Linked DNA regions of Homo sapiens. The protein of the gene in region 4 purifies or fractionates together with the protein of the main gene of each other region. This does not show direct contact. Each region holds a gene or a part of one and is shown on either strand. Other genes may lie near its edges.

Region 1 (3,500 bases), on a different chromosome or scaffold from region 4:
ATCCTACAATACAAAACTAATCCCTCCAAATCATCCATAGATTAAAAATCTAAACATACAAACAACTCAAAAACTTAAAAAAAAAAAGATCTTGGGCCGGGCATGGTGGCTCACACCTGTAATCCCAGCGCTTTGGAAGGCCAAGGCGGGCGGATCATGAGGTCAGGAGATCAAGACCATCCTGGCTAACACAGTGAAACCCCATCTCTATTAAAAATATAAAAAATTAGCTGGGCGTGAGGGCGTGGTGGCGGGCACCTATAGTCCCCGCTACTAGGGAGGCTGAGGTAGGAGAATAGCGTGAACCCAGGAAGCGGAGCTTGCAGCGAGCCGTGATTGCGCCACTGTGCTCCAGCCTGGGCGAAAGTGCAAGACTCTGTCTCGAAAAAATAAAAATAAAAAAATTAAAAAAAAAAAAAAGATCTTGGCTTAACATATTAGTTCAAATAATTATATTTACCATTATCTGCTTAGTAAACTTGCATATTCATCCCCTAGGAAACAAATAGCTACAAAATATAAATTAAAATCTTAACCGTTTGGAACTTAAAAGATGAGACTTCTTTCAAATATGAATAATCCAGATTTAATACACTAAATAAACTAAGTCAAACATTAGAAAAACATTAATTAGGACACACAGAAGCTTTGCCCTTCTGATTTTATTCAATATTTACTATGTATCCTAAGTTGTCCATTAATCTAAAGATAGTTTAAACAACTGCCAACTCAAATCCCTTTTTTAGCCCAATTCTCACACCATTACCAACTGTCCAACAAAACAAAACAAAAAGACTCAAATTCACAGGTAGGTCCTATCTAAAGAGAAAGATTCAGAGACATGGTAGAAAAGCTTAAAATCACCGTCACCAAATCGAAGATTTAAAAAAAAAAGCTTAAAATCATGAATTGGTATGGGTAATTGTCCAATAGGTAAAAACACCCAAATACAGATTTTGCCCTTCTGAAGGTCTATCTGGGATGTAAATGCCTACATTCCCTGAAATAATGTTGAAGGAATGCAGTATCACCTAACACAGTACCTTTCTGCTGTATCTCTAAGAAAAACCCAATTCTCATTCTTTAAGCACAGAGCAACTTCTCTTAGGAACAACTGTCCCCAAACAGAATATTTGATAATGCTCCAGTTTCCTAAGAAATATCAACAATAAAGATCAAATCAATTTGCCTGCCCAAAACTGTTACACCAAACAAGCATCACTAAAAATAGGAGGCAGAAAACTAGGAAGGGCTGTTACAGAAAGATTTTGGAAAAAATAAATCCAAAAAAACACATTGTCCAACACACATAGTTGGCTCTTTCTCTGCCTCTTCTAACCCCTACACATATATGCACCTTGACTAAAATTGGCGATACTGTTACTTCTAAACAGCTTAAGTACTAATGTTTACCTAACGAAATAAACCAGGTTTCAGGTTTCAATGCTGTGGGTGTTTCAACTTTTTCTTTCCTTATTAATAATAAGTATATAATAGGACACATACTCTTCATTATTTTCTAAATCTTCCCAAAATTATTTTTCACTAAAAACACGTATTTATGAGCCTAAATGCTCCTTTGTTAAGAACTACCAGCAATTAATTTGCGCTTCTTAGAATCATGTAGCTTTTCCAAGCTGAGGATCATTTGGCTTGTATTTTAGGCCTTCCAAATTCTAGGATAAGTTATACATTATTTAAAAGGTGAAATATGGCTGGACTCACACCTGTAATCCAACAGTTTGGAAGGCTGAGGCAGGAGGATCACTTAAGTCCAGGAGTTCAAGACCAGCCTGGGAAACACAGTGAGACCTCGTCTCTACCTAAATAGTAAATAAATAATTTTTTTTAAAAGATGCAAACTTAATCCATTCATTTACTGAATACCTTTAAGCATCAAAATATTATTTCTTAGGTCTTTAAGACATAAAGATGAATAACATCATCTCTTCAACTAAAGAAGTTCAAAACCCAATGGAAAATGTCTAAATAACAGCATATTAAATGCCTTAAGAGTAGTGCACAAGGTTAAATAGACCTAAGAATGAGATCAAAAGTTGAATCAGGCATTAAAAAAAACAAACACCACAGGCTGGGCGCAGTGGCTCACGCCTGTAATCCCAGCACTTTGGGAGGCTGAGGCAGGCAGATCACTTGAGGTCAGGAGTTCAAGACCAGCCTGGTCAACATGGTGAAACACCATTTCTACTAAAAATACAAAAAAATTAGCCGGGCATTGTGGCGTGTGCTTGTAATCCCAGCTACTCAAGAGGCTGAGGCAGGAGAATTGCTTGAACCTGGGAGGCGGAGGTTGCAGTGAGCCGAGACCGTGCCACTGCACTCCAGCCTGGGCAACAGAGCAAGACTCCATCTCAAAAAAACAAAAAACAAACACAAAAAAACAAAACCATGAAATAAATAATACAGCCATAATTCCACACAGAAATCATATGTTTGTTAGGGGGGTAAACCTATATGCAAATAGTTTTTTCACCATTAAACTGGCAAAAACAATAAGCAAGGAGCTTCAGAAGAGATCCTTGAACACTATAAGGTAATTCCAATAGCTCTCTACATGCAAAATTGAACTTCCCTACTAGAGTTGAAAAAAAAATCACAGCAATAAACCTTTAGCAGTGATTTTGCTTGTCTGCAATAATTTCCCTCTGTTAGGGGGCACAAATCACAAATCTTAGCACCAAGAGAAAAATGACTATCCATATATTTTAGTAATAAATTTAAGATAGTATCAGGTTTATTCTACAAACTTGAACTTCAATGCTACTAAAAGGCTAAATCTACACCTGCATCTTGTAGGACTCTTTGTCCACCCCATCCCTTGGCATTTTTCCAAAGCAAATCCATGATTCAATGGTTTTAATTTTTTTCTTATTATTCTTTAGTCTCATTGAGTTTATTTTTCTCATCCATGATTTCAGGTTATTTTGGATACTCTCTTTTCCTCCAGATTTTCAATATTGTCTTAAATATCAAGCAAGGTACAGCTCATTCATATTTTCCATCCTTAAGGTGTTATTTAATGGTTATTTTAGTTGAAGCTGAATACAGTATCTAGGATTTGCTTCGAAGTAATGGGGGTGAGAGAAGCAAATGAAGTCATGGAGGAAACAAGATTAGCCATAAATTGAAGCTCTATGACAGGTACTTCATATATTATACTGTTTTTCTTACATGTTTGAAATGTATTATTAAAAAGTTAAAGAAAAGGCTATATGAAGATGACTTCCTTGTTGATAATCAGATGTCTAAATTGCCTTTCAGACTTAAGGAAAAGATATAAGAACCACCAAAAAGGTTTGGACAAGTTGAGTGTGCAAAAGAAAAATGGCTATCACTGATACTAACACACTAAGAGAAATCCATGAATCCATAGCGATACTTAATCTTTAGGAAGAAAAAAAGTCTTTTTTGCAGAAAGTATGAGCCAGTAAACAGACACAGACCAACAGAATTGTGGGTTTTAAAAACAAAACAAAACC
Region 2 (4,119 bases), about 26 Mb from region 4:
CTACGAACCCCAGTTTAAGAGCCTGTCCAAGACCACGAACCATCCCACTTTTCCAAAGAGACTTTCAGGCTAACAGAATATGAGGCTGCAGCTCGTCTTACTAGTTAGTTCCTCTGAGTTGTGCACTCAGGCAGCTGTTTGCATCTGGCTACACAGCTGGCTGCAGCTAAGCCCAGCTGGCTCTCCCAAATGGCCGAGGGGTCGAATTTAGTGAGATGAAGAGAAGGGCCAAGACACAGAACCACCCTTAGGAAAGACTGAGGATACTCAAGGGAGAGAACTGCCCCTCAGAGGTTCATTAGCTTTAGAACCTTCTGGGCTCTTGGCAGGCTGAATGCCAGCTCCAGCTTCCCAGACAGAAAAGTAGAACCCCTTTGCTCAGCCACCCTGGGCGGGGCCCATGGGTAATGAGGATGCATCCAGGTTCTGGCCTCAGCGCAAGAGCCTTCAGGTGCTCCTTGGAGAAAGGCACATGTGCAGAGGATTTTACGCACTTTATCTCGTTACAGCCCCACTAACATCCCAGCAGAAGGCATGCTGTTCCCCTCCCTCCAACATGTGCGGAAATTCAGGTTCAGGTATTGGTAACAGATCTGAGACAGGACACTGGCCATGGGACCTCCAAGCCTCTTCTCCCTCTACCATATCAAGTTGCTTCTCACAGGCCAGCAGCAGTGGGAAAGAGCACTAGATCCAGGTCCAACCCGTTTTGGGGGAAACCTGGCCCAGGGAGGGGAAATATCTTGCTCAAGGTCACCAGGCAAAAGGGTTGCGGAATCATTATTGACTCTTTCTTTCCAGTCTGATCTCTTTACCTATGTTATCTTATATCATGCAGATTTGGCATTGAAAGTCTGAAAATCTTTTTCTCAGTTAGGGCAGAAAGAGCTGATGTAGAAACTTGTGCTCATGGTGGCTCAGGATCTCCAAAAGATAGAGGGTTGGCTAAGGCCAGGTGGCAGCTGCTGGGGCCAGGCTGGGAAGGGTGTGGTAGCCCTAGCCTCTGCAAGAGCAAGATGGAGTTGAGGTTAAGTCCAGGTAGGTAGGCTGGGTCAGGAGGGCAGAACCAAGGCGGGGGCAGAGTTTGGACTTTGGACATTCTAAACTTCCTCAAGCTCTGCAGGCCCCAGCCAGAGCAGGGAGATTTTCCAGTGTACCCTGGATGTGACCACGTCTTCTTGTTCAGTGGGGTCAGAGGCCAGGTGGGGGCAGAGGCTAGGTGGGGGCAGATGCCTGGCAGATCGCCCAGCCCAAAGTGGTGGATGGTACCTGCTTAACCTGTCCTAAACACCGTCCCTCTTTGGACAGCTTCACCTCCCCCAACCGCCAACCTCCGCGCGCTCTGAGGCCACGGCAGAGAGACCTCTGAAGCCTGGACATGCTCCTGGGCATGAGGGCGTCTGGTGGAGTGAGGGGGACCCAGGAGGCTGGGTGCAACCTCCTCCTCCTTCCTCCACTGTGCATAGCTCTTCCCCTCCTCCTTGCAGCTGTTGGGGAAGGAGAACAGAAGAAAGAGAAAAACACTGTTTCCCTCTTCAAACCAAAACAAACACACTCAGGGTTGAAGATCCAACACGAATCTGTGGAATGCAGGGAAGATGTCTGCGGGGAGAGTGCCACTGCTTGCGGGTGGGCAGGAGGAGACCCAGCCAGAGTTGGGACAAGTCCTCCTCTCTCTTTCACCGCCCCTATCCTCAAGGCGTCAGAGGGAGCGTATGGACAGCTCCAAACGCCCAGACTCACCCATCGCCTCACCCTCCATCCGCCAAGCCAGCGGTTGAGAAGGCCATCCAGTCTGGCTCTGCAGAGGGTGTGGCTGGCGTGGCCGCAGACTACCAGCGAGGTGCTTAAATGTATATGCTCATTTTTCCCCCAAGCGTACGGGAAGGGGGGAGTCCGCTGGGTGTTTATCTTGCAGTTTACCCCAGCTCCCAGCCCTGGAGAGAACAGGCTAGTGCTGGGTACTCGGTTCACAGAATGGGAGAGGACTCAGCCACCGGGACCCCACTTCCGCTCTCATGAGAGATCTAAAGGGCGGAGGGGTGGCGTCCAGACAGGTTCTGGCCCCGTCAGCACTTGCCAATGATTACTGCCCGACCCCACACCCAATCCTCCACTTCCCGCCAACCCCCAGCAGCCAGAGGGCCGCCCCTTAATCCTGGCTCCCAAGGGCCAGCTGCCCTGGGCTCCGACTCAGCTCCGGACCCGCATCCCGCGCTCGCACACTCTCTCGCTCCCACCCCACACCCTCCAGCTTCACTTACAGGTAGCGCTGCTGCCGCTCTGTCTGCCGATGGAGGGCGACCGAGTAGCCGAAGAGGCTGCCCGGGTTCCCGGCCTCCTTCACTACCAGGAATCGGGTATCCAGGTTGAAGGCGGAGACGACGCAGCCGCCGGCCGCCACCATCAAGGCGAGCGCACAGAGCATCAGGCGTGGGGCGCGGGGCGCGCGGCTGGGGCCGGGGCCCATGGCTGCCAGCGGAAGCGGGGTCCCGGCGAGAGCGCGTGAGGGCGCGGAGCTGGGCGTGAGGACCTGTTCACCTGCTCCCCGCGCCGCCGGAGGACACTGGAACCCGCCGGCCGCTGCGCTCCGTAGCGCTGATCGGTTTCGTGCCCCCAGCCCCAGCCAGTTTCACAGCTGCGCTCTCGGATCCCTTCCTAAGATCCGTGGGTCTATCTTCCTGCCTCCCCAGCGGCCGGGTCGCCGCCGTCCCTGCCCCGGGCAACCGGCCCCCAGCTTGTCCCGGCCGCGCCCCCTTGGCCGCGCTGTCGCCTTCGATCCCGGCTTCGCGGCGGATCTGGCAAGCGCACCGGTCGACCGCAAGGAGGACAGGAGGGAGGGGTCCCCCGGCGCGCGCCCCGCCTCCCCACGCCCAGTCCCGCACCTCCCCACCTTGCGAGCCCAGCCCGGGCTGCGCTTTCCTTCCGGGGAAAGAGAAAAAGATCCCGGCTCGGCCGCCTCCTCTTAAAGGGGCAGCACCGCCCCTCCCTCCTCATCCTCCCTACCCCAGCTCCGCCTTCTCCCCCAAACACCTGTCGGCAACCCCCAAAGGCTTAGATTTCCCCTCCCCGCCCCTCGCTTCTCCGAGAAAGCGTCGCCTGGGGAGCAAGATGGATGTGACGGGCGGGGCCGGGGGTGGGATTTGTCTGGCCGCTTTCCTGCGGCTGCTGCTGCTGCTGCTGAAAAGGCCAGCCGGGCTGGAGAGACCTGGCATTGGCGCATCTGGGAACCGACGTCCGTGCGCGGCTGGCTAGAATGCTGGACTCGCCTCCGCAGCGCTGTGAGTCCCCAAGAGGTGGCTGGCGGTCTCTGGGAGTTCTTCCTCGCACTCAGGCCCCTCGCTGTCTTTGCCGAGATTTATTTCTCCTATCCACTCACCCTGATCCGAGCTGAGATTGGCTCCTCAGCAAAGACAGACATATTTAGCAGTGGTAACAACCAAATGTCGCTAATTATAATTACCAAAAAGCATTTTTCCCCCTAAGTGCTGCGACTTCTGGTATCAAAGGCTAAGACTGTCAATGTAGAAATGAGTCCGTCCTTCACAGAACGCACTGCGTAGCCGGGAAGCTGAGCCTAGACCGTATCCATTTCTCGTCCACTCCTGCCTTCAGGGCCCAGCCCAGCAGAATCCCAGAGGCTCCCTCTTCCCACCCAAGCTCGAACAGAGTGTTTGGAGACTGGGCTCGGACGTCAGCACCCATCAGGTGTTTGGTGGGTAGGGCCAGGTGGCAGTAAGTGGGCGGAGACTAAAGGTCTCCTCCACCAAGGAATCAAATCGAAAGGGAACTTCAAGAGGTTACTCTGGCCAGGCGCAGTGGTTCACGCCTGTAATCCCAGCACTTTGGGAACCCGGGGAGGGCGGATCACGAAGTCAGGAGTTCGAGACCAGCCTGGCCAATGTGGGGAAACCCTGTCTCTACTAAAAAAATACAAAAATTAGCCGGTCGTGGTGGCGGGCGCCTGTAGTTCCAGCTATTTGGGAGGCTGGGGCAGGAGAATCGCTTGAACCCGGGAGGCGCAGGTTGCAGTGAGCCGAGATCGCGCCACTGCACTCCAGCCTGGGTGACAGAGTGAGACGTCGTCTCAAAAAAAAAAAAGAGGTTACTATGTACTTT
Region 3 (4,158 bases), on a different chromosome or scaffold from region 4:
CTATTCACATTTTCAGCCGATCATTCTTTGTTGTGGGAGCTGTCCTGTGCATTGTAAGATCCCTGCCCTCTACCTATTAGATGCCAGTAGCACTGCCAAGTTGTGACAATCAAAATTATCTCCAGACATTATCAAAAATCCTCTGAGGGCAAAATTACCCTCGGTTGAGAACCACTGATCTAGCCAAATACTTTCTAATAGCATGAACCCCACCATTAACCCCTAAACACTCACAGTGCACCAAACATTATAATATATACACTATTACCATACAACAGTGTCACAAACCCGTAAAAGCTGCACACTCTTCACTTGGTCCCCTTCGGTCTTATACTTAATTTAAGTGAACTCTTTCCTGCCCTGCTTATGCTTTCTTACAGGGTCAGGTCCTCACATGTGGCAGGAAACATGAAATTATTCTTTGGTGCTGACTTGATGGTCTCTTTCCTTACCTTTCTCAATAAATGTTAGCAGCTTGGCAACAAGTTGCTTATATTCTCTCTAACAGACATTGCTAAGTAATATGTCCATTCACTTGTGGCAAAAATGATTTTCCATATCAATCACAATTTGGTGGCCCACCAGTGAAGGGTTTGTGAACTATCAGTGTGCCGTGGCACACCAGTTGAGAGCTAGTACTTTTAAACATTTTTCCTGGGTGACTGTCTCTAATTATGTACTCAAGAGTCCTCAGTCTGTTTCTAGCCCAGACCTTTCTGCTGAGGTCCAGAGAAACCTAAACTCAAAGATGTCCCATTAACCCCCAACTCCGTATTTTTGAAACCAAATTTATAATATTTTGCTCCAAATCTGCTCATCCCACACTATTAGGGAACATATTCATGCAGTCTCAGAAGCAGAAGCCTAAAATTATTTCTTTCTTTTTCTTTCTTGTTTTGTTTTTTGTTTTTTTTTGAGACGGAGTCTCATTCTTGTTATTCAGGCTGGAGTGCAATGGCACGATCTTGGTTCACCACAACCTCCGCCTCCTGGGTTCAAGCAATTCTCCTGCCTCAGCCTCCCATGTAGCTGGGATTACAGGCATGCGTCACCATGCCTGGCTAATTTTGTATTTTTAGTAAAGATGGGGTTTCTCCATGTTGGTCAGGCTGGTCTTGAACTCCTGACCTCAGGTGATCTGTCTGCCTAGGCCTCCTAAAGTGCTGGGCTTACAGGCGTGAGCCACCACGCCTGGCCAACCTAAAATTATTTCTTAACATCTCCCTTTCTCCTACTGGCTGCAGCCCATCCATCACCAAGTCTTCTCAGCATGTCCTTCTTTCTATTTCCATGACCGCTTCTTTAACTCAGGTCTACACCTCTTCTCACCTGTAATGCTGCAAAAGTGCTCCTGGTCTCAGTGATTCTAGGCTGCTCCCCATCCATCCAGCCCTCATAGTACTGCCAATGGGTTTCCTAAAGTGCAAATCTGACCATTCACACCCCTGCGTGAAGTCCTCCAATAGCTCCCTTTCAATGTCAAGTTCAAACCTTGTAGCTCAGCACACAGACCCCTTGGCTGTCCCCACCTCTCTAACCTCACCTCCGGTCATCTTCCTGTATTCTCCTGAAGTTCCAGCAATACCAAACTACTTTGCAACTCCCAAATTTCCATGTTGCTTCTTGCCTCTCTACCTCCTCATTGCTCCTTCATTGGCCTGAGATGCTCTTGCACATCCCTTCTTTTTCCAGCTACTTCTTAATTGTTCTTAAAACTTAGCTCAAAAATTACATCCTTAGAGAAGTTTTCTGGGCTCTCTGTTCCCCAGTGTTCCACCTATGCCCTTACCACATAACTGTGAGGTCCTTGAGGGTAGGAACCATGTTTCGTTCATATTTATATTTTCAAAACTCCACACAGACCTCTGTTGAGCTCAGTAACTGAGGAAAGACTGACTACTGCCTTGAGTATATCTGTGTTCTGTAGCCTGAAGTTTACACAAAAAGCTTGACACCAACCATTATGGCAAACCTAAATATCCCAATTAAAGGGTGAAAAAGTAGTTAAAGCTTTAGGAGAACCCATGACTATAATGCAACACAGCATTTAATGTCTTTGACACTGTACAACAGGCCAGTGGCCTACGTACCAATCATGGCAACAGCTGCCTCTGCTTCCAAACAAACCGATGTTAGGCAAACAGTGCTGTGTGTGACCAGGTCCCCCTTCTCTTTCTCATAAGGAGCAGCACATGCTCCATTTTCAGAAAAAAATAATCTGCCTTCTTTACTCTGTCAGTCTTTCAAAGGATGTTGGAAGTGTTCTGTTAGGAAAAGCCATGATGTAATTAAAAGAAATTGCCAGCTCACAGAAGCTGTCAGCTCAATCCCACTTCTGTGGCTACCAGCCTTGCCCCGCTGAGAACAGTGAATCAGGCCCAAGAGGGGCTGCTCAGCTCTTTTTCAGGGGGAAACTCCGTCACTCAGAAGCCTACCCCTGCCTGGGAGTTTGGCCGATTTGCACACTTTAACTTCCTTTATTTGTAAAGGGAGGAAAGAGAATGGACATTCCCCTTAGGAACTTCGCAGTGAGCCAGGCCAACTCTGTACCGAGGCTGTTTGCATGCAGCAGTCCTTCCATTTCATTTACCTACCAGTCCACAGCTTTCCCTTCTTCATTTCTGCATGAAATTGTTGCTGCCCCCAGCACCCCAAAGAGGCCAAGGAAGAGCAAAGCAAAGGATGTTCTTAGCAGTCTTGCCATCATTTTCTGTTTCATTTATTTCATGCCACAGCAGGACACTTTCCCCATAGATTGTGGAGTCTGAGTTTCAAGGCGCTCTCAGGCTGTGCTGGCTCTGACGTTTGATTTGATTTACCTGTGCTGTTCGCTGTTCGGGGCATTTTCAGAGTGGGATGGATCCCATGTAATTGTGCGATTCTGTCACAACATGCCAGCGTGACTCTGGATGCCTTTGTGCTGAATTGTTGACTGGTTTGCAAAGTCATCAAAAAGTTCTGCAGAAAAATAGGGAAAGATAGTTCACTCTTTGGAGTGAACATTGTTGTATGAAATTCATTGGGCAGGGGGACTTCATTTTAATAAGTAGATGTTAAATATATTTCATGTCTTCTCCTGTTTGACTCAATGAATGAGAGCAAATGCAGGTGGTTCGTACATTAAACAGAAATGATAAAACCTTATGTCTTAGTAATAATTAGGATCTGTCACTTAATAATCTCTGTCTTAAGGAACCAGTTGCTAAGGGATACTTCAAAGGGTTGCTTCAAAGTAACAGTAAATTTAACTGTATTTTACCAAAGATGTTTACATATTCTCTCCATCTTCCTGGTTTTAGCCACTCAATGTGGTGCTTCAGGCTGCTATGCAATAGGTAAACATATTGATCACCCACTCTTCAGGTTAATAAAAAATGTTACAAACATCTATTTTGCCCAAACTATGCTTTCTCATTCTCGAAGCTGAATCTGAAGTAGAAAACCAAAATAAAATGGCCCACTACCATAACAACTATAAAAAGGTGAGACCAATTTCTTTGTGAATCAGGGAAGGAGTAGATAGACATATGAAAATAATTTCTTTAATGCATACTTTTGCATCAATTATTAAAGCTGCCATCATAATAAATAGCAGTTTACATCATGCCTGGAAATAATGCTGCCCCTAATCTGTCTCTCTGATAATCACAATGATAACTATAATAGTTCCAGATCAGAGGATCCAGACCAAACTGAACCCTTGTAAATCAGATTACCTCTGTGGTTGCACTAGAACTGTTCACAATTCTCAGGATTCATAGAAAAGGGGAAGGCTTGTGTCTCTATCCTAAGACAGAGTTTTGGGAGGAGGACTCTGTACCACCTGCCCAATTACCTGTGGTGCCTGCAAAAAAGGCAGAATTCTAGGACTTATTCCAAACCTGCTACATCAGAATTCTTCCAGTTGGGCTCAAGAATCTATATTTTTAATAAGCTTATTGGTGATGCTGGTGTACCCTAAAGTTTGAAACTCACTGCCCTGAGGCCAAGACTATGCTGTATTTGGTAGATTCACAGCTTTCTGCAGGTTAAATGAAGAAATATTTTTCTTACCCATTCCTCCATTGGTATTATTATTATTATTATTTTGAGATGAAGTTTTGCTCTTGTTGCCCAGGCTGGAGTGTACCCACCTCGGCCTGGGAATCCATCCACCTC
Region 4 (3,500 bases):
CTGAGCCAGGTTTTGTTTCTTTGTTTTTTTGTTTGATTTTTAAAAAATTAATTATTATTATTTTTTTAGACAGGGTCTTACTCTGTTGCCTAGGCTGAAGTACAGTGGCATGAACATGGCTCACTGTAGCCTCAACCTCCTGGCCTCAAGTGATCTTCCTGCCTCAGCCTTCCAAGTAGCTGGGTCCACAAGTATGCACTACCATGCCCAGCTAATGTTTAAATTATATGTATAGACATGGTCTCACCACGTTGCCTAGGCTGGTCTTGAACTCCTGGGTTTAAGTGATTCTCCCACCTTAGCCTCCCAAAGTGCTGGGATTACAGGTGTGAGCCACCATGCCCCGCCTTTGTTTTTAATTATGGATTTGTTGCCAACATTTAAAAACTAGAAAGGCCAGGTGCACTGGCTTACACCTGTAATCCCTGCACTTTGGGAAGCCGAGGTGGGCGGATCACTTGAGATCAGGAGTTTAAGACCAGCCTGGCCAACATGGCAAAACCCCATCTCTTCTAAAAATACAAAAACTAGGCCGGGCGTGGTAGCTCACTCCTGTAATCCCAGCACTTTGGGAGGCCGAGGTGGGTGGATCACTTGAGGTCAGGAGTTCAAGACCAGCTTGGGCAACATAGCAAGACCCTGTCTCCCCCAAAAATTAAGAAGCAAAAAATCCCCACACAAAACAAAAGAAACAAAACTATGAAGCCTGTAAACCCAGTCCAGCCTGTGTGCCACCTGATTTGGCTGTACCCCAGCACTGGGGCTCAGCAGTGAAGGTGATGCTGGTCCAGCCATGGCACTCCCTGCCTTGAAGGGTTGCTCCTGCTGCTTGGCAAATTGTGACAGCCCTTGGGGAGTCTGGCCTGGGGACATGGGGTCTTCGATCCCAGCTCAAGAAACCCAAAGCCCCCTGGACTGGGGCATATAGGGGGAGTTTATCTCCAAGAGGTTTGGCTACCCTGTGGATCCTGAGTTGTAGGAGGGGACAGGAATGGTCTGGGCAGGTCCCTGGCCCATGAAGGAAGAAAGAGCCCTCTTGGGCCGGGCGCGGTGGCTCACGCCTGTAATCCCAGCACTTTGGGAGGCCAAGGCGGGCGGATCACCTGAGGTCGGGAGTTCCAGACCAGCCTGACCAACATGGAGAAACCCCGTCTCTACTAAAAACACAAAATTAGACATGCGTGGTGGCACATGCCTGTAATCCCAGCTACTAGGGAGGCTGAGGCAGCAGAATCGCTTGAACCCGAGAGGTGGAGGTTGCGGTGAGCTGAGATTGTGCCATTGCACTCCAGCCTGGGCAACAAGAGCGAAACTCTGTCTCAAAAAAAAAAAAAAAAAAAAAAGAGCGAGCCCTCTTGGCCTGAGTCCCTGGCAGCAATGGAGCCTCATCCAGCGTGTCACTGGCACCCTGGGCAGGTGAGACTCCCCTGCCACAGGGTGGCAGGAGCAGGTGGACGTGTCCTTGGGAGGCCAGCCAGGGGCACGGCCAGTATCCAGGGACTCAAGCAGCTGCCATGTGCTGCTTTGTCTTGGGAACCCAATGCGGTGCCCACGCAGCCCCCCGGGCTGCACCCTCGACCCTGTGGCGCAGCCTCACCCGGTTGCCCTGCGCGGTGCCATCCTGTGTGCGGTAGGAGACCTGGGACTTCCCGCCGTCCAGGACACGCCGGATGACAGGGATGCGGGCCACCTGGTCCCCGCGGCTGACCGAGAACTCAGGCTGCTCAAAGGACACCACGTCTCTGGCTGCAAGGAGCCCGGGCATTTGTCAGAGTGTGCTGGGCCCAGTCCCTTCCCACCTCCTGCTCTCCTGTGACCCTGCCCAGCCCAGCCCAGAATCCAGGAGTCCGCTTGGTTCCCTCTATGCATTGCCCTCTGGGAAGGGCACAGGAGCGAAACGGAAAATCCTTCCAGAAAAAGATGAGGGGCCGGGCGCAGTGGCTTGTGCCTGTAATCCCAGCACTTTGGGAGGCTGAGGCAGGTGGATCACCTGAGGTCAGGAGTTCGAGACCAGCCTGGCCAACATGGCGAAACCCCATCTCTACTAAAGATAGAAAAATTAGCTGGGCGTGGTGGCGAGTGCCTGTAATCCCAGCTACTCGGGAGGCTGAGGCAGGAGAATCACTTCAACCTGGGAGGCAGCGGTTGCAGTGAGCCAAGATGGTGCCATTGCACTCCAGCCTGGGTGGCAGAGCAAGACTCTGTCCCAAGAAAAAAAAAAGTGGTTCTGGAACAAAGTGTCCAGCAGACATCCTGGAAGGGCCAGGCAGAGGAGGGAGGCCAGTCACGGGCAGGACCAGAGATGGAGCCTTCAGCCCCAGGGCTGGAGGAGAGCAGGAACAGGCCTGAGGCCTGTGGCTTCCGGCACAGGTGGGAGGAGGGGTCAGATGTCCACGGTGTGATGCCTTGGCCAACCCTTTTTCTAGATAGAGAGGAGCAAGGGGCTGGCCCTTATGAGGATGCAACAGAAGCTTCCATTTACTGAGCGCTCACCACCAGGCAGGCACTGTGGCGAGGTGAACAGCCACGCATTCCGTAAAAGAGCCCTTACCCATTTTACAGATGGAGAAACCAAGGCTTGCAGAGGTTAAGTGACTAGCCCAGGCCACGTGGCCAGGTCGCAATTCCACTTAAGCAGGAGGAACCAGTGCCCCCGAGCCCCCGTCTGCCTTCCCCACTCTCCCCACCCAGACCCACCTTGCTCCTTGATGATGGTGATGTTTACCAGGCGGCGGCCGAGGGTGGCAGTGCCTGCGGGCACGTCGATGGCCTCCACCAGCAGCTGCTTCTCGTCGTCATCCTCAGGCCGGATAAAGAGGGGCACCCGTACGTCCACCAGCTCCACGCCCTCCTGGAACTCCACCATGCCCCGGGCGTCTGGGTGGGGGTTCGGAGGTGGTCAGAGGTGGGTCACAGGGCCACACAGGCGGGAGGTGCGAGGCAGTGGCACAGCGGACCCGCCCTCCTACCCTGGTCTGCAGTGAGGGTGTAGTAGCCGGGGGCCACCTTGAGGTCGTGGAAGGCCCTCTGTTCCACCTGCTTCTCTGTAAGCTTCAGCAGGGCCGGCTTGGCCGAGCGGGGCGCCATCAGCACTGTGTCCACAATGGTGTGGTCTTGCCTGGGTCGAGGGTGGAAGGTTCAGGCAGCGGAGGGGTCAGGCTGGCACCTGCTGCCCTGTCCCTCCTGCCTGTCTTCTCCCCTTCAGGGGCCAGGATGTAAGACAGCAAGAAGTGCAGGGTCTTCAGAGGCAGGCAGTGCTCCAGGCCTATGCCAGCCCCATACCCTTTACCCTGCAGCCTCAGCCCAGCCATGGCGCCTCCCTGTCCTCAGCGTCCTCCTCTGTGAAATGGGCTTCTCTGCCCACCTCATCAAGGGCTGGACAGCAAAGATGCTAAGGGTGTGTGTGCTCAGGCCAGGCTGCCGCGGCCCTAGCCCTGGTTCTAGTTCTCGATAGCTGGGTAACCTTGGGCAAGTCACTTAACCCTTTTGAGCCTCAGCTT
Region 5 (3,500 bases), on a different chromosome or scaffold from region 4:
ATAGGCATCTGGCATTTCCCCTGCTGGCACTCATTCTCTCTCCTGATGCCCTGTGAAGAGGTGCCTTCTGCCACAATTCTAAGTTTCCCAAGGCCTCCCCAGCCATGTGGAACTGTGAGTCAATTAAACCACTTTCTTTATAAATTACCCAGTCTCCGGTATTTCTTCAAAGCAATGTAAAAGAATGGACTCATACAGATTGCCAGACAATACAAGAAGAATAAATTCAAACCCAAATCCATGTGAGGACGAGCTTGTGATTACAAGGTCACGGGACACTTCCAAAACCTGCCCCCCCACACACAGAAAAAATATCTAGAGCAAAGACCAAAAGAGAGAAGTTTCTCTATTGTCTCCCTGCACGGAAGGAAGCACTCTGTGGCCACCAGGTTTTATAGGAGAGTCTCCAACAGTGTGTGTGTGTGCGCCCAATGCCTAGTCTTCCCTCCCAGCAGGCACGACCAATAAAGGCCAACAAGTGTTCCCAGAACAGTCACACCTTCAAGGCTGGTCATCATTCGGGTTTCAGCATCCTCTTTTTTTTTTTTTTTTTTTTTTTGAGACAGAATCCCAATCTGTCACTCAGGCTGGAGTACAGCGGTGTGATCTCGGCTCACTGCAACCTTCACTTCCCGGGTTCAAGCCAATTCTCACGCCTCAGCCTCCCAAGTGGCTGGGATTACAGGCTCATGCCACCTCGTCCAGCTAATTTTTGTATTTTTAGTAGAGACAGGGTTTCACCATGTTGCCCAGGCTGGTCTCAAACTCCTGGCCCCAAGTGATCTGCCCACCTCGGCTTCCCAAAGCTCTGGGATTACAGGCCTGAGCCACCACGCCTGGCCTCGGCTTCCTCTTCATTATTAGTCCTTGAGATTTCTCCAGTTTCTCAGAGTTCAGTTATGACTTCAAGAGAAAGTCCTCTATATTTTTTTTCAGCGTGTGGGTATTCTATACAAAAAGGTTTTTAGACGATCTAGTCTGCCAGACTGCTGAAAGCCAAAGTCCAAAAGAACTCTTGACGGTTAGAGGACATCTGTTTCCACATGTCTTTAAGAGTTCAATAAAAGATTGGTTTCCAAACCCGGCCTGTAAAAATATAGATTCCCGGGTCTTACCTCCACATTTTAGGAATCAGAATCTCCAGGGTTAGGGCCTCAGAATTTCCATTTTTAAACAAGCTTCCCAGGTGATTCCGATGTGCCTATCAGTTTGAGGACCACTGAATTCTTTTTTTTAATTTGTCTTACCTTCAAAAGCTGGCAAAAAAATTATTTAATCTCCTTTTTGTATTTTTTCTCCTTTCACTTCCTCTTTACCCTACCCAGAATTTACACCCTAATGAAAGGGGAAAATGAACTCTAGCTTTCAACTGGTAGATCAGCGAGCCACCTCCACGGCAATTACAGAAAATCATAACACTCAGCAGCAAAAGTCAGGCCAAAAAATATCATTATTCCAGGCAGGCTTCTTGACCCAGCAGCAAATTTAAATCTAAAAAACAGTCCCCATGCTGAGTTCTGCCTCCATAAGGATCATTGAGCATAACAGCTCAATCCTTCAAACTTTCCTAAAGCGTAACAGAAGCACTAAATGAGCACTGGGTCACCAGAAGACACTAAGATTCCCCTGGAATCCCCTGAAGTTATATACAAAATCATTTGTGTGTGCTCAAGTATTATGTGTAATACTGCAAATGTGTCTTTTTATAAAGAAAAAACACACAGCTTTCTCCAGATTCTCAGTGGGTCCTATGACTCCATTACTCTATATCCCTGCTGCGTAGAAAAAGCACATTTCTGGTTGTAAGCATCTTTCAGTATTATCAACATATGTTCTTATTAGGCATATTATTATAACTTCCCAAGTATATTCTGTCAAGCCTCAAAATAGACTTATCACCTCAAAAAGGGGCCTCCACAGTCAAATTTACTTGGGAAGCACTAAACCTACTACCCCCGTCATTCATTTTAGAGATTCATTCATTTTAAAGGCTCTGACTCACTAGCTCCGAAGCTAGCTCTGAAAAGCCCAGCTACAAAGAAGCTTCTTTAACATGTATTTTCTACATCTCTTTAACCACATCTCTCAAAAGATTGTGAAACAGTCTGAGAAATATTGGTCTAATTTTAAAATTATCTCAAGAGTATCTTTAACCCAATGCAGTTGCTTGAGGAACTTATGCTTACTATTACTATTCACTGTATTTAATATTACATATTATATAGAATTATTATTATCCTTGTGTCTTATGCTTATACACGCTAAGCTTACATCATCATGTAGACACAGTCCTCACTAAATACAGCACATAATTTTTGACTGATTAGTAAATGGTCTCCACCCAGAACTTTGAATAAATCTTTCAACACCCTATAAAAGCTTCTAACTAATCCCCATACTTCTTTCCACAATTTAATACAGCCTATAACCCCAGCCAAGTAGTGAAACATTCTAAATAAACCAGGCTCCAAGATTAATTCTAATGAAAAAAAAAAAAAATCCGTGCGACTAACAAAATATAAGGTTGGAGCAACCCGTCTTGGAGGAGTAGGAAGGCTTCCATTCTGTACCTAACAGGACAGGCCAAGTATCTGATGAGCACACCTGGAAGGCCAGAGCTTGAGTTCAAAGAAGACACACGCAACATTAAAGCACAACAGAAAAGAAGAGACCACACATAGGCATATCCAGCCCTTTCAATTATGATCACACGAAGATTTCTTAGAATTCATTTTAGAACGAGGATTCTCAACCTTGGCACTACCAACAGTTGAGGCCAGATAATTCTTTGTTGTGGGATATTGCCCTGTGCACTGTAGGATGTTTAGCAGCAACCCTGGCCTCTAGAGGCCAGCAGCACCCCTCTCCCCTGGCTGTGACAAAAAGGTCTCCAGGCATTGCCAAACATCCCTTGGGGAACAAAACTGCCCCTCCAGCTCCCACTGAGAACCACTGCTCCAGGGGAAAACTGCAGCAGCTAATGTTTTTGCTACAGGTTTAAACCAGTTATTTCTTTTCCTAAAAATATAAAGAAGCTTTTCTTGAGCTGAGTTTGATACAGGATGCATAAACATTCACACATCCAAAAATCCCAAGTTAAAAAAGGAAAAAGGAAAACATTCCAATTGAGGGACATTCTGCAAAGTATGTAACCAGTACTCCTCAAAACTGTAGGTCATCAAAAACAGGAAAAAGTCTGAGAAACTGTTACAGCCTAAAGAAGCCGAACAGACACGACAACTAAATGTAGTGTGCTATCCTGGATGGCAGGCTGGAAGAAAAAAAGGAGGGTAGGTAAATACGAAGGAAAACTGAGTAAACAATGAATAATGTATCAGTATTGGTTCATTAATTGGAACAAATATAGGAATGTGAGAGATTAATAAGAGAAATGGGTGTAGGGCTTACAAAAACTATGTCATTTTTCTGTAAATCTAAAGCTGATCTAAAAAATAAAGTTTTTAAAAAAACTTTTTAATTAAAATGACAAGAAGGATGGG
Region 6 (3,500 bases), on a different chromosome or scaffold from region 4:
ATGAGTTACTCAGGCAGCAGCCCCCCTCCTGTTCCATCCAGCCCAGCCATGGGGCGCTCCTGGGGGAAATTGCTCCCCGAAAAGACACACCAACCACAGGAAACAGAAATTGAACCGTTTATTAGCCTAGGTCTGGGTTTCAGGCATTGCGGAGGCACGTCTGGGGAGCTCTATGAGGGGAAACAAGCCCCTGACTGGCTCCTTGCCCCCCAAAGACCCGCTCCCCCAGGCTTTGCATTCACAAGAAATTACTCTGAGGCATGAGGTTTCCTTCCCCAAGGTGAGCTGCACCCCAGCTCTCCAGTGGGAGGATGGGCCAGCAATTCCAAAGGGGTCTGGGCAGGACCAGAGCTCCCCGACTTTGGCAGCTTCAACACAAACATGAGCAGACAGGACAGCATTCATTCTGGGGGAAATGTGACGAGGAGAGGAGGGTCACAGACATCACGCCTATGTGCACACGCGCGCGCGCACACACATACACACACACACACATAAATATACGTTTGTACCGTAACATCCCTTCCATTATCCACAGGTTTTTGTGAAGTCCTTCTGGGGGGTTAGGGGAGAGTGTCCCCAGGAAATGTCCCTAGCCACTGCCACCCCCATGCTCCATTCTATATAACTTGAAAGAAGAAGGCCGGGCACAGTGGCTCACGCCTGTAATCCCAGCAATTGGGGAGGCCGAGGCGGGCGGATCACTTGAGGTCAGGAGTTTGAGACCAGCCTGGCCAACGTAGTGAAACCCTGTCTCTACTAAAAATACAAAAATTAGCCAGACATGGTGGCAGGTGCCTGTAGTCCCAGCTACTCGAGAGGCTGAAGCAGGAGAATCGCTTGAACCCGGGAGGTGGAGGTGGCAGTGAACGGAGATTGAACCACTGCCACCTCAGCCTGGGTGACACAGTGAGACTCCATCTCAAAAACAAAACAAAAATCTTGAAACTGTCTCAAAAAAAAAATCTTGAAAGAAGACACAGCGGGGTTCTTGAAAGAAGACACAGAGAAGGCTCAAGGCTTCTCTCTGCCTTGCTCAGGAGACCTGGTACCTTAGCTGGGGCTGCAGGTGTGGAGCTGAGAATAGCTTGGGGGGTGGCTGTTTTTGAAAGGAGGGTGTCTGTGCAAATATCACACCCAGAATTTTCTCAAGTTGCGCCTTGCATCAAGAGTCCCAAAGTCCTCCCCAGCCACCCAAACTCGTTTTTCTCACTTTTGGTGATTATTCTGTGCCCCAAATAGTGCAACTGAGCAATGAGGTCTGAGAATGAGGAATGGACCTCAGCCGCCATCCCCTCCCCACCTCCAGCCGTGGTTTCCGGGCCTCAGAGAGACGGGGAGAAGTCGTCAAGTGGCAGCTGATGAAATTTGGGGAAGCTGTGGATTTGGGCTCTGGATGGTCAGAGAGGAGGCCTCTAGCTCCTCAGGACAGTGGTTCTGTAGTCGCACGAAGTTGCCCAGAGAAGGTGGCAGGAGGAATACATTCGAAAAGGAGAAATCGGTGCAGGACTAGGGGCCAGGGAAGAAAATGCAGAAATTCTTTGTACCGCCAGGTGAGGTGGCTTACGCCTGTAATCCCACACTTTGGGAGGCCAACACGGGCGGATCATGAGGTCAGGAGTTCGAGACCAGCCTGGCCAACATGGTGAAACCCCGTCTCTACTAAAAATACAAAAAAAAAAAAAATTACCTGGGCGTGGTGGTAGGCACCTGTAATCCCAGCTACTCAGGAGGCTCAGGCTGGAGAATCGCTTGAACCTGGGAGGTGGAGGTTGCAGTGAGCTGAGACCGTACCACTGCACTCTCCAGCCTGGGCAACAGAGCGAGACTTCATCTCAAAAAAAAAAAAAAAAAAAAAAAAAAAAAAAAAAAAAGCCGGGCACGGTGGCTCACGCCTGTAATCCCAGCACTTTGGGAGGCCGAGGCGGGCGGATCACGAGGTCAGGAGATCAAGACCATCCTGGCTAACACGGTGAAACCCCATCTCTACTAAAGGTACAAAAAATTAGCCAGGTGTGGTGGCAGGCGCCTATAGTCCCAGCTACTTGGGAGGCTGAGGCAGGAGAACGACATGAACCCAGGAGGCGGAGCTTGCGGTGAGCCGAGATCACGCCACTGCACTCCAGCCTGGGCAGCAGTGCAAGATTCCGTCTCAAAAAAAAAAAAAAATCCTTTGTACCAGGTGGTAAAGTGCTCCTGCCCTGAGCTCCCCTTAAATGCTGCCTGCCCTCACCCTGGCTCTTCACAGGTCCCCTGCCCTGGCCTCCCCAGGATCCAGTTCTAAAGGGGTCACACTAGCCACTGGACTGGCCCTCAGGACCGCACTGCAACACTGCTATGTGACTAGTCAGTGCCTTATCTGGCCTTTCCAGGTGTGAAATATTTGCAACATCACCCAGGTCTGTGGGGCGGGGGCATCTGGCTCAGTAGCCCCAAGTCTCTATCTGGGGTCACCCAGTGGCCTCTCCATGAACCCCTCTGCCCTGGCCTGGTTGTTGGTCCACCCCCACCCTCAGACCACCGTGTTGCCCTCCAGAAACGTGGGTGACGTGGGCATGTGCATGCCCCTCTCCAGGGAGCTGGAGCTGCGGAGTGGCAGGAGGTGGTGGCCCGGGGTCCCGCCCCGCCTCCGTCCTTGCACCCCCACCCCCGGCCTCCAGCACTGCAGCGGCCGAAGCACCTCCCGCCGCAGGTCCCGGCTGCGCCACGTGTAGATGACGGGGTTGAGCAGGGAATTCAGGGTGGAGACGGCGAAAAAGTAGTGGGCTTTGTAGAGGATCGGGCAGGAGTGGACGGGACAGGCATAGTCCAGAAGGAGGATGCTGAAGGCGGGCAGCCAGCAGACGATAAAGACGCCTAGCACGATGGTGACCGTCTTGAGCAGGGCTAGCGTCTGCGGGGCGGCCATGTCAGCGTGGCTTGAGCGGACCACGCAGTAGATGCGCACGTACAGGGCCACGATGGCCAACAGGATGATGGAGAAGATGGTCACCACGCACAGCACATAATGCTTGGCGTAGAGAGGCAGGACAGTGGAGCAGGCCTCGAGGTGGCCCAGGCAGTTCCAGCCAAGGATGGGCAGGCCACCGAGGACCAGCGAGATGAGCCACGAGGCCCCGATGAGCAGAAGCATGCGGCAGCTCTTGTCGCTGCCATACAGCTTGACCTTGGCAATGGCCACGTGGCGCTCAATGGCGATGGCCAGGAGGCTGAAGACAGAGGCCGAGAGCGTGATGAAGGCAGAGCCCTCCCGGGCAAACCACTGCACAGGCGTCAGCCTCAGCGTGACAGAGCCAGAGAGCAAGGTATTGGCTACGAAGGCCACGCCTGCCAGTAGATCGGAGGCGGCCAGGTTGCCCAGAAACAGGTACATTGCCGAGTGGAACTTGCTGTTTCGGGCCACCGCAATGAGCACCAGAAGGTTTTCCACCACAATGGCGCAACAGAGGATGACGATGAAGGCCGAGGCCACCTGGCGGGAGGTCGTCTCCTGCGTTTCC

Evidence for each region.
Region 1: the proteins of ITGB4 (region 4) and CSTF3 fractionate together in Homo sapiens (co-fractionation; one large-scale study listed by BioGRID). This does not show direct contact.
Region 2: the proteins of ITGB4 (region 4) and ITGA3 purify together in Homo sapiens (affinity purification with western blotting, with the first as the bait; one study listed by BioGRID). This does not show direct contact.
Region 3: the proteins of ITGB4 (region 4) and DNASE2B purify together in Homo sapiens (co-immunoprecipitation; one large-scale study listed by IntAct). This does not show direct contact.
Region 5: the proteins of ITGB4 (region 4) and NT5DC3 fractionate together in Homo sapiens (co-fractionation; one large-scale study listed by BioGRID). This does not show direct contact.
Region 6: the proteins of ITGB4 (region 4) and S1PR2 purify together in Homo sapiens (co-immunoprecipitation; one study listed by IntAct). This does not show direct contact.

What each region holds. Positions count from the first base shown.
Region 1 is NC_000011.10:33,154,981-33,158,480, forward strand, and holds part of CSTF3 (cleavage stimulation factor subunit 3), read right to left. Parts: intron 1-3,500. UniProt on the Homo sapiens protein: One of the multiple factors required for polyadenylation and 3'-end cleavage of mammalian pre-mRNAs.
Region 2 is NC_000017.11:50,054,791-50,058,909, reverse strand, and holds the start of ITGA3 (integrin alpha-3 preproprotein), read right to left. Parts: upstream 2,801-4,119; 5' UTR 2,471-2,800; coding exon 2,265-2,470; intron 1-2,264.
Region 3 is NC_000001.11:84,397,126-84,401,283, reverse strand, and holds the start of DNASE2B (deoxyribonuclease-2-beta isoform 1 precursor), read right to left. Parts: upstream 2,801-4,158; 5' UTR 2,720-2,800; coding exon 2,595-2,719; intron 1-2,594. UniProt on the Homo sapiens protein: Hydrolyzes DNA under acidic conditions. Does not require divalent cations for activity. Participates in the degradation of nuclear DNA during lens cell differentiation.
Region 4 is NC_000017.11:75,741,959-75,745,458, reverse strand, and holds part of ITGB4 (integrin beta-4 isoform 1 precursor), read right to left. Parts: intron 3,119-3,500; coding exon 2,970-3,118; intron 2,878-2,969; coding exon 2,698-2,877; intron 1,747-2,697; coding exon 1,598-1,746; intron 1-1,597. UniProt on the Homo sapiens protein: Integrin alpha-6/beta-4 is a receptor for laminin. Plays a critical structural role in the hemidesmosome of epithelial cells. Is required for the regulation of keratinocyte polarity and motility.
Region 5 is NC_000012.12:103,831,235-103,834,734, forward strand, and holds part of NT5DC3 (5'-nucleotidase domain-containing protein 3), read right to left. Parts: intron 1-3,500.
Region 6 is NC_000019.10:10,221,332-10,224,831, forward strand, and holds the end of S1PR2 (sphingosine 1-phosphate receptor 2), read right to left. Parts: coding exon 2,513-3,500; 3' UTR 102-2,512; downstream 1-101. UniProt on the Homo sapiens protein: Receptor for the lysosphingolipid sphingosine 1-phosphate (S1P). S1P is a bioactive lysophospholipid that elicits diverse physiological effects on most types of cells and tissues.